2 linked regions of the Homo sapiens genome follow. The protein of the gene in region 1 purifies or fractionates together with the protein of each later gene. This does not show direct contact. Each region holds a gene or a part of one and is shown on either strand. Other genes may lie near its edges.

The links.
Region 2: the proteins of MX1 (region 1) and TRPC5 purify together in Homo sapiens (pull-down; one study listed by IntAct). This does not show direct contact.

Annotation. Positions count from the first base shown.
Region 1 is NC_000021.9:41,453,652-41,457,308, forward strand, and holds part of MX1 (interferon-induced GTP-binding protein Mx1), read left to right. Parts: intron 1-3,657.
Region 2 is NC_000023.11:111,771,665-111,775,321, forward strand, and holds part of TRPC5 (short transient receptor potential channel 5), read right to left. Parts: 3' UTR 1-3,657. UniProt on the Homo sapiens protein: Forms a receptor-activated non-selective calcium permeant cation channel. Mediates calcium-dependent phosphatidylserine externalization and apoptosis in neurons via its association with PLSCR1.

The DNA of each region.
Region 1 (3,657 bases):
AGGTCCTGAGGAAGTGTGCCTGAGGCTGTCAGGATGCAGTTTGATTTTATACATTTCAGAGAGGCAGGAATTGTAGGTAAAATCATAAATCAATACATGGGAGGTGTACTTGCCCTCCCTAAAGAGGCAGGACACCTTGAAGGAGGGGGAGCTTACCGGTCATAGGTGGGTTCAGAGATTTTCTGGTTGACGATTGCTTGAAAGAGTTAAACTTTGTCTACAAACTTGACATCAATAGAAAGAAATGCCTGAGTTAAGGCAGTGTTAGAGGCCAAAGGTATGTAGATGAAGACTCTGGGTAGCAGCCTTCAGAGAGAATAAATGGTAAATGTTTCTTTTCAGGCCTTAGAGGCAGCAGGCTCTCAGTTAATCTCTCCTAGATTCAGGGAAGGCCTAGAAGGGGAGAGGTCTGACTGCATTAATGGAGATTCTCTACAGGTGCAAATTCCCCCCCCACAAAACATGGCAGGGCCATTTCAATCTGTTGGTCCTGTTACAGCCGTTTCAAAATATGTCCACAAAATATATTTTTAGGTAAAATATTTGTATTTCCTTTAGGGTCTGCAATCTGTCTTGTGATGCTATACCAGAGTCGGGTTGGAAAGTAAGCCATTTTATACTGAGTTCATGGAAACTCATCCAAGGAGATTTCATGGTTTGTGGGGTGTGTGTGACTTAACCCCTGCCTCACATGACTTTATAATATGGTATCTTACTACTCCAGAGTCTTTTTGGCCAACCTTATGATCTCAATTTCAACCTAAACTCCAAAAGGGCCTGGCTTCTCTTCCTGTTACGGCCAGGAATTCAGATTTTCAGGTTTCTCTGGGGTCCACTTGGCCAAGAGGGGGTCTGTTGAGTTGGCTGGAAGGCATAGGATTTTATTTCTGGTTTACAACAATTTCCTTAGTGCAGCATTGGAATGCAATGGTAGCAGACTAAATGGAAGCTATCGCGTAGACACATGCTTTGGTTGATACTGCACGATTCAGTTAACCTGAAGTACAATCTAATTCATCCTAGGGAAGGAGGCAGTGAACACAGACACAACTCAGGTAGAGCCCTTGGGATGTGTAAACACCTGAGGAGGTAAAGCAAATTGTAATCTCTCGGTTTATCAGATGTCCCCATTGCCTTACTATTTGGATGCTTTAAAGCAGGGCCTCTCAAACTCCACCCAGCACAGAGGCCTCCTGGGATCTTGTGGAAATGCAGATGCTGATTGCAGGTCAGGATGAAGCTGAGATTCTGCCTTTCTTTTTTTTTTTTTTTTGAAACCGAGTCTCACTCCATTACCCAGGCTGGAGTGCAGTGGCACAATCTCAGCTCACTGCAACCTCTACATCCTGGGTTCAAGCAATTCACCTGCCTCAGCCTCCCAAGTAGCTGGGATTACAGGCTTACCTTGCCACCATGCCTAGCTATTTTTTCTATTTTTAGTAGAGATGGACTTTTACCATGTTGGCCAGGCTGGTCTTGAACTCCTGACCTCAAGTGATCTGCCTGCCTCGGCCTCCCAAAGTGCTGGGATTACAGGCGTGAGCCACCATGCCTGGCCTCTGCATTTCTAACGGGCTCTCAGGGGTCACCATACTACTGGATAGAGGCCACACTTGGAGGAGCAAGGCTCTAAACCGAGGGTCAACATCCATTCCTCCAGACACTGGGAGCTGCATGCACGTGAGTGAAGCCAGTTAAGGGGAAGACAGGCATGCACATCAGCTTCTCCTGCAGCCAAGCTCACACCTGTCCGCTGCTTCCACTGCCTCCTAGAATGAACAGTTACCTTGAGAGTAGGTGAGGCATATACATGCACAGAATCCAAACAATAGGATGAGTGACAATGGCAGAGGAGTCTCCGAGCCAAGCAGCTCCCTGGACAGAAGCAGCCCTTCTCCGGGTTCATTTCTGTCCTCCGAGGCTGACTCATGCACTCAAAAGCTCCCATGCATATACATTTTATAATGGTTTTTACACAAAGGTTAGCAGAGGAGTGGACGTGCTGCTCTGTACCCTGCCTCTTTTGCTGTACCTGGGAGATTGTTCTGCCTCAGTTCTGATGGGGCTGCCTTGTTCTTTTCAATGGCTGCTGAGTATCCCATTTTATGGATGTGGTATATTGAGCCAGCTCCCTTTAAGCGAACAGTTTGTTTGCAGTCTTTTGCTAATGCAGGTGTGTTGCTGTGAATAGGTTTGTTTGTATATCATGTATCTGGAAGCATCAATTCCTAGAAATGAGATTCCTGGTATATTAGGATTGTGCAGGGAAACAGAACCACAGATATATGTATGTAAAGAAGTATATTTCAGCCAGGCATGGTGGCTCATGCCTGTAATCCCGGCACTCTGGAAGGCTGAGGTGGGTGGATCTCTTGAGGCCAGGAGTTTGAGACCAGCCTGGCCAACATGGCGAAACCCGGTCTCTACTAAAAATACAAAAAAATTAGCTGTGCATGGTGGCCCATGCCTATAGTCCCAGCTACTTGGGAAGCTGAGATATGAGAATTGCTCGAACCTGGGAGGCAGAGGTTGCAGTGAGCCAAGATCACACCACTGCACTCCAGCCTGGGTGACAGAGCGAGACTCCATCTCAAAACAAACAAACAAACAAAAAACAAAACAAAACAAAAAACAGAAGGAAAGAAAGAAATATATGTATATTTCAAGGAATTGGCTTCTGCCATTTTGGGAGCTGGCAAGTCCAAAATCCCAGGGCAGGCCAGCAGGAAGAGCAGGCCAGAAATTGCAGCAGGAGCTAAGGCTGAGTCCACAGGCGGAATTTCTTCTTTTTAGGGAAACCTCATTTTTCTTCTTAAGACCCTCAACTGATTGGATGAGGCCCATCCACATCATTGAGAATGGTCTCCTTCACTTAAAGTCAGTGGGTTACACATGTTACCCACATCTACAGAATACCTCCGCAGCAATACCTAGATTCGTGTTTGATGGAATCACTGGGGACTCGAGCCTAGCCAAGCTAACACATGAAACACACCATCACAGCTGGGGAAAGGATGGCTTATTTTAGACTGATAAAGATGACCCAGAGAAGGCCTGCTCCATCCACACTGGCCGCTTTAGTCTGCACTAAAGTTGTTGGTTTTTTTTGTTTGTTTGGTTTTTTTTTGGTGACAGAGTCTCACTCTGTCGCCCAGGCTGGAGTGCAGTGGCGCAGTCTCAGCTCACTGCAACCTCTGCATCCTGAGATCAAGCGATTCTCCTGCCTCAGCCTCCTGAGTAGCTGGGACTACAGGCACGTGCCACCACACTCGGCTAATTTTTGTTTTTTCAGTAGAGACGGGGTTTCACCATATTGGCCAGGCTGGTCTTGAACGCCTGACCATGTGATCCATCCGCCTCAGTCTACCAAAGTGCTGGGTTTACAGGCGTGAGCCACCACGCCCGGCCTTGTTGGGGTTTTTTGACAGCCTAATAGGTGAAAATGACATCTCATTACAATCTTAATTGGCATTCTCTTATGACAACAAGCTGGTACATCTTTTTGTGTGTTGAGGGTTATTTCTATTTCTTGCTCAGCAAACAGTTCATCCAGGAAGAGCTTCTTGGTGAGATAGTAGACCTCTGCGATTTCTGTTGCAGACGATCTACATTTTGTCATTTGCTTTGTCATTTTTGTCTATGGTGGTTTTAGACTAT
Region 2 (3,657 bases), on another chromosome or scaffold:
ATGCACCAAATCTCAGGTATACAGTAAATCTGAAGTATGCAGACTGACTTTATTTTGCCAAAAATGTGTATATTTAAGTCTTCCAGGTAAGTTATTCTGACCTAAATGCTTTTTTTTTTTTTAAACAAAACCAGGAACCTCAAATCTTGATAGCTCTCAATATAAAAGTGCTACAGAAGATGCTGTCATGGCAGTTCATTTTGGCAATTCCTCACAGCTCAGGAAATGTCTCATTGAAAAGTTATTCTTGCTTCCCTCTCTTCAAAATGATCTAGTAATTACCTAAAGGGATAAAGGGCCAAGGGCAGAACCATCAAATGCTGTTAAGTTTTGTTATGTGTGTCTATGTATATACACAGACACGTTCTCACTTTTACAGACATCCCTCAAAAGGCAAAGCAAGCCAAAACCCACATCTGTTGGAAAAAAAGTTACTGGAAGGTTCATTGGAAATATAATGGTAACAATGTTTCTCTCTGCTGAAGTAAAGCTCACATTCATTTGGGGTACTCAGATCCCACTGCCGAGTCCTACACCAACAAGGTGGATATTTGGAGCAATTATCTAGATAAAGTAAGCCAAAGAAACAATCTAAAATATCCTTAGTTTTGAGGCAAAGCTGCAGGGATTGAAGGTAGGGCTGTGAAGTAGGTATGAAGAGGTTATTTAAATGATCTGAACACTTGGATCAATTTGCATTGACTATGTCTATATGAGCAATCTTTTGAAAACTTGATTACCAAGAAAATATACTCAATTTTTCTTAGGTACCTTTATTTATTTATTTTTGAGACAGTCTCGCTCTGCCGCCCAGGCTTGAGTGCAGTGGTGTGATCTCAGTGCACTGCAACCTCTGCCTCCCAGGTTCAAGTGATTCTCATGCCTCAGCCTCTCAAGTAGTTGGACTACAGGCGTGTACCACCATGCCCAGCTAATTTTTGTATTTTTAGTAGAGATGGGTTTCACCATGTTGGCCAGGCTGATCTCAAACTCCTGGACTCAAGTGAACCACCCATTTTGGCCTCCCAAAGTGCTGGGATTACAGGAGTGGGCCACCATGCCCAGCCTCAATTTTTCTAAGGTACTTTTAAACAAAGGATTTGCTGCCTATCTTCAAGTACTTTTTACCTGATGATTTAACAAACCAAGGTCTGGGGCACTAAAACTATTAGTCAAAACACCACACGAGATTCACCCATGATGTAACATGAATGCCAATGGTCATTTGTATTTTCAGGCTAAGGTTTGGCCTCATATTTATCTCTAAAGTTCCCACTGAGGTTTTCAGATGAGGTTTGCACTGCCATAAGAACTATAAAGTTCTTTTTGGAAAAGGTATTAAGTCATTTGAAAAGTGGAGGCGTTCGTTTTTTAAAAATGATTTAATCAAATTGCAGACAGGTATTTACGACTTAGCTGAAATAGCCTAAGTTAGGTCACAGTGGAATGAAAAATGATGGAGGCAGAACAGGGAATTTTTTAATATCTCCATGTCAGTAGACAGAAGCGTAACTTGAAGCATTTATATCTCTGTAAAGTTTGGCATTTTCCGAAAATGATTTTAAATTTAGTCTTTCCTCTGTATTTCACTGGACATAAAGCTGGAAGTGGAGATATTTCAACAATGGTCACTTTCTAATATAATTCAAATATTTTCTTTGTAATTTTTACCTTTATTATTAGGGAGATTTTATGAGATCAAATAAATGAATCCAAGGTGTCCGGAAGTGATAAGCCAACTGTAATGTAGGTGGAACATGATATGGATATTTTAGATAAGTAGTAAATGATTTTTGTATTATTTGTGTTTGACTTTGCAGTACATTTTTAACTTCACATTTAAATATGTAAGTCTGAAGTTTTGGAGTTCACAGCATTTTTGGCAAATGAACAAAAGGGTGTCTGTAGTGGCCACTTCACATCTATATATAACATATATGCTTACTAATAAATGTCTTCTATAATCTAGAAGACTTGAGTTTATTGACCAGCTCTGTGACCTTGAGCAAGTCATTGTCCTTCTCTGGGCCTCTTTATTTTCTATTTGTAAAATATGAGGTTGGAATAGAGTAGATCCTTTATAAAGTTCTCTTTTAGTTCTTTTTATGTTTATAAATTTACTCTCAAGTTGGCTTATAACTCCTCTGGGGTCAGAGGATATACCTAAGCATTTTCACTTGAAATACCTTTTATGATACTTGATCAAGAGAGTAAGGAAGTGAACAAAATCTTTTTCCTTTCCTACTTTGTACTGAATTAGAGTTAATAAAAATGTTGGTGTCACCAACATGGAAGTTAGGGCAATAGCTGTTCAGCTTTAACCCCCATCCTAAATGAGGCTTCACTATAGCTAGTAAAGTCTTAAGCCCAAGTCACAACGATAACCCTGAGAAGATCTGAAAAGGAATGTACTCCCGTGACATATGACACTGGTTCTTTCAATAGTAGAGATTGATTTACACATATTATCTCTTTAGAACGTAAGTGACAGAAGACTTTTGGAATACAGTTCCATGTCTGGCTAGCCTGTTTTCTGACAAGTTGATAAGGTCACTGCTAGAAAACTTATAAGTTTTCAGAAGTGATATACATTTCTGAGAAAAACATGTTTTTCTTTTTATAAAATGGGGTTATATGCTATTTCTTTTGGTGCTGTTAATATGAGTTAGGAATGTAGCCCAGGTTCTATTATTATTCAAAGTGAATTTGACAATTTGAAAAGCTGAATCTGTAACTTTAGAAACCTTTCTGGAAAGTAACCTGTGATTAAATGTCAAGGCCATTTTATGACAGTCTTAGCGAAGCAGGGGAGAAATTGATTTGAGTAAATAACCACTTCAGATATGATCAAGGAATTATTTTCGGACAACCTCTTGCCAAATGGGTCTTGATGCAGCTTTTTCACTTGATCACTTTTTCCTGGATATGAGGCTTTATTCTTCAAAACCTCCTCCTATTTCTGGCCCCTCCCCCTCCATTTTGCTCTTCTCCAGGCTAGAGACAAAGATGGGAATCCATTCAAATAACAGAAACCACACTTATCAAAAGCTAGTTTGGAGGCATATTTGCAGTTCGAAAGTTCCTCATTTCTCTTACTTTTATCAGAAATTACATACATTAATCTAAATGGATTCCTATTGGTGTTGACATTAAAAAAAACAGCGTGACACCTATTTTACTTTTCTGGGCTACACACTATTTATGTAATCTCTAGGACTCAGACCTAGAGTTGTTTCAGGTCATATGTTAGAGTCTAAACTGAGGAAACCTTTGTGCTAATGTTGGTAAAAGCCGTCCTTGCTCAGCAGGTTCTCAGTGGTTATCAGGTCTAGAATGATGACCATATGCATTATGGACTTTATTTTTTAACTTGAACCACTGTATTCTGATGAGGTACTCTTAAGCTGTGGAAAAGAATTTGTTTGGATGTATAAATGTAGCTTTCTTGGAAGACAGTAGAATTTGGATCACGTTTATAATTCCATGAATCCACTAGGGTTGTTATGATATATATCTAACATAATTTACACATGCAATTCCACTGCCCCCAATGAATATTAAAACTGCAACCTGAATTAGGTTATCTATACCTAAAGTTGCCATTTTTATAAAGCAGTTAATTAAAATGAAGATGCTCTTTTCTCATATTTTGACACT